2 linked regions of the Homo sapiens genome follow. The protein of the gene in region 1 purifies or fractionates together with the protein of each later gene. This does not show direct contact. Each region holds a gene or a part of one and is shown in the gene's direction. Other genes may lie near its edges.

Region 1 (3,653 bases):
ATCTGACCTATGACACTGTCACTCTGACTTGAGAAGTACAAAGATGAAAGCAGGGGAGCAGTTAGGTTTTTATAATCAACCAAGTAAGAGATGATGGTGGCTTGGACCTGGGTGGTAGCCACGTGGTGACAAAGATGAATCCAAGGTTTTCAGCTCAATCAGCTGGAAGTCATGTACTGAAATGGGGAGACTGTGGGAAGAGCAGGACTGGGTAGGGGGAGCCAAGAGTGTTTGGCTTTGGTTGTGTTAACTTGAGAGTTCTTCAGATGCCTCTTAGGCAGTCTGGTGGGGTGGTAGAGTGGACACTTGGATAGCCAAGTCTGGAATTCAGAGGGGATGCTGGAGAATGATAGGTCCTTACTAGTCACTAGAGTATGGATGGTATTTGAAGCTATCAAATGTATCAACAGCACGTTGAGGGTGAGTATATATAGAGAAGAGGTGAGAGGTCTGAGTCCTGCCATTTCACAGAAACCAGGGCATTGATTCAGAATTCACAGAGAACAGTTAGCTCAGAGTTTTCTTAATATCCTATCTTTTTAAAAAATAAACATGTCATTGTTCCCTTTTGAGACAGTTGCACCGTTTAACAATAATTCCTGAATTTTATTTTTCTTCCTTTCCTTCTTTCTTTTTAGTGGCTTGTACCTGATCAATTGCTAATACTGTTTAAAATTGATAGGCACTTTTTGGTCTGGTAATCTGATTTTTTTGTGGAACATCATTAAAAGAACAATTGAGAGATTTATAGCCATAGAAAATTGAGGCTTCTATTACTCAAGATAGAAGTTAGCGTAAGTCTGATCTGAGTTTTCCACTGTTTTTTTTTGTTGTTGTTGTTATAAGCCTTGGTGTGGGTTGTAATTTCATGGTCGGCAAATCTGGTGAAATTTATTTTGCGAGAAATCAAAAGATGTACTATAATAGTAGACTGTTCCTTCACGCTGAACTTTATTTATTTTTTGCCTTTTCTAGCCATTATTTGCATTTTTAAATGAAGAAAAGTTTAACGTGGATGGATGGACAGTTTACAATCCAGTGGAAGAATACAGGAGGCAGGTAAGATGTTAGATGCTATTGTCTGGTATGTGATGAACCTGAAACATGCATTATGACAGTATGTCATCAGCCATGCTTTCTGAAAATCAGCGACATCCTTGCTAAATATCTTTTCAATGGTGGTGATATTATCCACATTTTGTACAATATATCTCATTCTATCTATTACTGTATAACTTATAAGCTCATTCCATTGCCATATGCAAGCTGCATCGAAGACTGGGTCACTAAATCCTATTTCCTTCCCTATATGAAGAGCATCAATTCTGTGTTGTTTATGAAATGAATTAAATACTTAGGATTTAGAAAAGTCAAACATTTTAGAAGTTACACTTTAGGACTTGATATTGCTATGTATATGCATGTTTGGGAGCTTAACTATTACCTGCAGTTAGATTTAAATTATATTCATTTCAGTTTGCAGATTCAAATGAATTAGAACTGTTTTCCTGTAGTGATGTCTTTTTCAAGGAAGCTTTGATAAGTGTACATTATAATTGTCTTTACTGTTCTCTTATATGAATGTCACCTACATGCATGTTTATTTGCTATAATAAAGGCAAGAGGCTTGGTCTCATATTGCTGTTCAGGAACAAAAGTCTCTTGCAGTATTTTTGTTAAGGGAATTCTGTGCATAATATGTAACAAGAGCCACAGTTTGACCTCTGGTATAACCAAATCTGTAGGCAGCTAGGAGTTGTGTGATGGGATTATTCACAATTCTTGTTCTACAAAGCTCTTAAGATAATTGAAAAGTTTTGTTGAATGAGATTTGAGAATCAGATCAAACCCATTTGCTTTATATGAAAAGGTAGTGAATATAAAGTAAAATCGTAGAACCCTAGACTTGAGAAGAACCATCTAGTCACCACCTTCACCATGAAAAACCTGGATTGGTTTCCTTTTTTAGTCTTAATCAACGGTTTGCATATTCATGAACAGATTTGACGCTCTGGAATTTGGGTGCAGGAGTTTAGCTTTAGAACATATGTGACATAGTATATCCTGTTGCTTCCATAAGTCACGTTTAGACTGTTGAGTTTTCTAAGGCTTTGCACTACTCCCATTTTAATGGCCTCAGTTCTGGACTAGCTACTGAGGCGGAAGAAGGACCATGAAAACATTTTGCATGTTTTGGAGACCTCTGTAAATGATGTATTAAAATATTTTTACCTTCTTTTTGAAGTATTACTGATAACATTAAGACTTTTTTTTAGTTCAAAGCTTCTAGCTTGAAACAAAACAGTTCCTGTTTTTAAGATTGCATGCATATATGAACTGTTGAAGGTATTTTGTTCTAGACTGCCATTATATTCAATCTTTTTTTCTTATAACTTTCTGATGGGACTTATAACTGTCTAATTGGACTCAGCATCAGACTCAACATCTGTTTGGTCCGTGGTCTCTAGGGCCAGACCTAAAGAAAAGGTACAATGTCTGTCCCCAAAGCAAACACCCACATAGCTCACTTTTGTGTGTGTATCTGTGCATTTGTGAGAATGGGGAGAGAATATTCCACCACCTCTGGATCTTTTCCATACTAAATACAATTTTGTGGGGGAGATGATAGGATGGGAGGTGTCTTCTGTGTCTCCCTGTCACATTAGCAGTCTGCTTAAAATGCAAATGACTGTATTTCTCACACAAACTATAGGGCAATCATCGATTCCGAACAACTTGATTGAAAAAAAACTCATCGGAGGTGGCGAAATGAGCCTCCCCAGAGGGATCTTCCTTTACTTCCCCTCATGATTTTCTTCATGAGCTCAGCCTCTTTCCACTTTGGAGCAGACTGAAGCATTCACTCTATTTTGAGCAGGGAGAGGAAGTTGCCTGATCTCTTTTCTACCCTCAGTTAGAGCCAGATTAAGATGAAGCAGGGTATTTTTTTAGGGGATGGGAGGGGTGCATGGGCGGGGGATGAACTTGGGTTTATCTGTGTGGTACAGGTAGTAAAGAATATGTGGACACAAAATAAAGGAAGACGAATTCCTTTGAATTCAAGAGAATCTGTATTTACAAAGTATAGTTTAGAACTGTAAAAACCACCAGTGTTTTGTCTTGTGTTCTTACGTTGTCTGGATTATTGATTTGGCACCCTTATTATAAATAGGTAGACCGTCATCACCCTGTGGTCAAAGAGGCATGTGCACATATTGCTAGAAGGAAGAAAAGAGGCCCAAGGCCAAATCCAGAGATGAGGTCAAGCAATACTGACTTGAATTTCTTTTTTTCCTCACAGGGCTTGCCCAATCACCATTGGAGAATAACTTTTATTAATAAGTGCTATGAGCTCTGTGACACTTACCCTGCTCTTTTGGTGGTTCCGTATCGTGCCTCAGATGATGACCTCCGGAGAGTTGCAACTTTTAGGTCCCGAAATCGAATTCCAGTGAGTACTGCAATTAACGTTTCTCTTGAAGAGCACCTTTTAGTCCATAAGAATGGTAGTCATATAACTTAGAGAAACGGTCCTTTTGGAATTCTATCCCAAAAAATACTTACTAAGTGCTTTGTGAGTACAAAGTACCATACCAGACTGGAGAAGAAGTGTGCCGTCACCTGCCTTCTAGGAGCTTGCAACTAAGGATCAA
Region 2 (3,653 bases), on another chromosome or scaffold:
TCATCCAAGGAACAAAAATTGGCTTCTGTACCTTTAGAAAAAGGAACTGCTGTTAAATGTTGGGCTGTCATTTCAGTAGTTTGATGAATCCAGTTGTTTTAAGTGACCTCTACCGGTTCACTTACATGAATTCCAAAAACTTAATAGCAGATACACGCTGTGAATGATTTGCCCTTATTTCAGAACTTTGTTAAGATTGCGTTTTGGGGATGACTAGTATTAATTAACCAGTTTTTTTAAATCAGAAGTAAAGAGTAGAACTTGATACCAGTGTTGAAATTATTTGCAGGAAAATAAGACACAGGTATTTTGACCTGATATGAACTTAGTTATGAAGCAAATTTTTTTCCCCATATGATGCCATGAAAAGTTATAGTATTTAATTTATGATAATAATTTTAAGCTTTAGTATATCTGAGAACTACATGTGACTACTCCTTAAAAATCAATTTAAAATGTGATACAAGTGATTAGAAAATATTCCCTCCAGGTCTTTACTAGATAGTCATAAAAAGATTTGACTTATATATTACAAAGGAGAATTTTCATTTGTTCTTTGTGAATTTCTTCTCCTTTTCCTTTGAATCGTGAAGAAATGTTTGGAGACTCACAGGAAGAAAGTGGCAGTAGAGCTGCTTTACAACTGATACATTTTTTGAAGTAGAGATGGTTGTTTTACTGGCTTCTCATTTTTCACTGTCTCTCTCATTTTTTATTTAGAATTTTCTCCCAAACTGGTTGGCTTGACTGGCACGAGAGAAGAGGTCGATCAAGTGGCCAGAGCATACAGAGTGTATTACAGCCCTGGCCCCAAGGACGAAGATGAAGACTACATAGTGAGTAAATGTTCCAGTTTTAACCCATGGACCAGCTCCCAGATCCCAAATAGTCATAAGGCTTTCAATGACTGACTAGCTTCTGAGAAGAGAGAATACCTAAGATTATTGCAAAGTCCTTAGGAATTTTTTTTTTTTTTTTTTTGAGATGGAGTCTCATTCTGTCATCCAGGCTGGAGTGCAGTGGCACAATCTTCGCTCACTGCAACCTCCGCCTCCCAGATTCAAGCAATTCTCCTATGTCAGCCTCCCGAGTAGCTGGGATTACAGGTGCGCGCCACCACACCTGGCTACTTTTTTATATTTTTTGGTAGAGACGGGGTTTCACCACGTTGGCCAGGCTGGTCTCGAACTCCTGACCTTACCCGCCTCAGCCTCCCAAAGTACTGGGATTACAGACGTGAGCCACCGCATCCAGCCTCCTTAGGAATTTTGAATATTTGAAAGGATAATAGAAGCATGTTTTTTACTTTTTATTTATTTTCGAGACGGAGTCTCACTCCGTCAGCCAGGCTGGAGTGCAGTGGTGCGATCTTGGCTCACTTCGACCTCCGCCTCCCGGATTCAAGCAATTCTCCTCCCTCAGCCTCTCGCGTAGCTGGGATTACAGGCATGTGCTCCCACGCCTGGCTAGTTTTTGTATTTTTAGTAGAGAAGGAGTTTTGCCATGTTGGCCAGGCGAGGCCAGGGGGTCTCGAATTCCTGACCTCAGGTGGTCTGCCCTGCCCACCTCAGCCTCCCAAAGTGCTGGGATTACAGGCCTGAGCCACTGCGCCCAGCCAGAAGCAGTTTTTTAAAAGATGATTGTTTGATTTATATTCACTGTTCTCATAATTCAATTGCCTGTTTTTCTCTTATAGTGGCATATAGGATTTTAGGGCAGTTTAAAACCAGATACTTGGGTGCCATGTTGGAAATAAAGAGAAGCCATCATTTGGAACAACACTTATTTTAAAAAGATTGTGTTGGTTCTCACTGTGTCCCCAGTAGAGGTATCAGAAATTGCTCTTCTGGAGAACCAGTTTTAGGCCATGGAGAACTGCATTTTTAGGTTGAATGAGAATTCTGAAAAGCAAAAGATGAAAGGTTTATTTGCCCATTGACTATATGCCTTGGACAGTTAGGCGTTAAATATGTGCTTTTTAATGATAAGGAACAGAAATTCTGTTGTACTTGTGTAGCTCTTAAATTAACTATCTTCATATTCATCAGCACTGCCCCAGAAGCCTTAAGGTCATGCCCAAGTTACTGTGTTTCTTTTCTTGTCAGTGGTTTCACAGTGAAGCACCAAAAGGCATTAGCACCACCACTATCCACCAATTTTCCTCTCAATTTGGACATTTTTCTCCTATCATATGAAGAGTCGGCGTTGTATTTTAGCATTATTTCAGTATTTTTCTTAGTTGTCATACTCTGTTTTTTCTATAATATTGTTTGGGCAGAGTAATCCTAAGAGCCTTTCTAGCTGTGAAGCTGTCTTTGTAGAAAGAAAGATGGCCAAGACCCTGAGTCACTGATCCAGCAGCTCCCCATGGCCCATCCCAAGAGTTGAGATGCAGAGGGGATGGGATGTCTCACTGCAGTGCTTTGTCTCAACAGCCAACTATGATTTCTTTGTCCCTTTGAACCTGGAACGTGTGTGCCCCTGGAGCCTACAGCCTGAATTAAAAGCAAGGTTCTGGCCTGTTTGCCTTAATTAAGCCTACACAGTAATCCTGTCTTCCAGATGTGGTGCCTCGTAGAATTAGGGAAACTTGGATTCCTTGGAGTAAAAGATGAGAAAAATGAGCACTTTTCTTTAAGCCTTAATTGTAAGGAAAGTAGAGGGACCCTCCTCTGTTTTCCTCTTGCTGCTTCTCTAGCAGAATGAGAGAAGAGCAGAGAGCCACAGTGGCCAAAAGAGGAAACCATAGGAAAAGGACTTTCCGGACTTCTGTCTTTATAGAGAGTTGTATTAACTGGTTTTGAGTTTATCCGATGATGACAGCAGGAATAGATGAGCTCATCAGTCTGATTTCCAGCATTAAATGAGTTATATTAAATTGTTTAAATGTATACAGTCCTAAACTAGGTAACACTCCATAGTCTTGATGCTTAGAACTCATAACTCAGAGTCAGAAAGTCAAATCAGAAAGCAGTTGTACAAATAAACCCAAACAGCCTGCAAAACTTAAATTGAAAACATTCAGTTACATTGACAAGAGATTTTGCTGAAACCAAAGTGCTGCTCAGGGCAAGAAGGGAGGGGGTTTTGGTCAGACTGCTATCACATACCCAACTCTACTCAACTGCCCCTCTGCATTTTCTATTTAAAATACTTTGAAACCTTTAATCGTGTAGCCTGCCTTGCCTGGTTAGTGTTGATTTGGCAAGAATGTATCATATTCATGTCTGCCTGTAACAGCAGTGGGCAGCTAGGTGCCAGTGAGATCATGGAGCAAACACAAGCCTGGGCACTGAAATTTATACTCACAACACAGATAATCCAGAATATGGATATTAATGTTTTTAATTACAAATGAAAACAAAAATATGTAAGTCTTATGGAAACTTCTTGGACCTTGTAGAATGTATCTTTGGCCCCATTTTGAGAAATACTGGCCTACTGCCATAAGAATTTGACTTTTGATGAGATTCGATGAGGAATTCATGCTGTACATTTGCTAAATCATCCAATAGGGGGAGACATTCTTCAGCTTCTTAGGTTTTTCATTAGTATGACTTCAGTCCCTTGAGGTCACAGATTTTCATCCATAGGATGGTTTGGGAAACTTCTGTTATCATTTAAGGACCTGCAGGAAGTAAGGGGGTACCTTT

The links. Proteins that work in one complex are often made in the same cells at the same time.
Region 2: the proteins of MTM1 (region 1) and SCO1 purify together in Homo sapiens (affinity purification with mass spectrometry, with the first as the bait; one large-scale study listed by BioGRID). This does not show direct contact.

What each region holds. Positions count from the first base shown.
Region 1 is NC_000023.11:150,637,968-150,641,620, forward strand, and holds part of MTM1 (myotubularin), read left to right. Parts: exon of another isoform or gene 1-794; intron 795-975; coding exon 976-1,059; intron 1,060-3,301; coding exon 3,302-3,451; intron 3,452-3,653. UniProt on the Homo sapiens protein: Lipid phosphatase which dephosphorylates phosphatidylinositol 3-monophosphate (PI3P) and phosphatidylinositol 3,5-bisphosphate (PI(3,5)P2). Has also been shown to dephosphorylate phosphotyrosine- and phosphoserine-containing peptides.
Region 2 is NC_000017.11:10,683,910-10,687,562, reverse strand, and holds part of SCO1 (protein SCO1 homolog, mitochondrial), read left to right. Parts: intron 1-720; coding exon 721-836; intron 837-3,653. UniProt on the Homo sapiens protein: Copper metallochaperone essential for the maturation of cytochrome c oxidase subunit II (MT-CO2/COX2). Not required for the synthesis of MT-CO2/COX2 but plays a crucial role in stabilizing MT-CO2/COX2 during its subsequent maturation.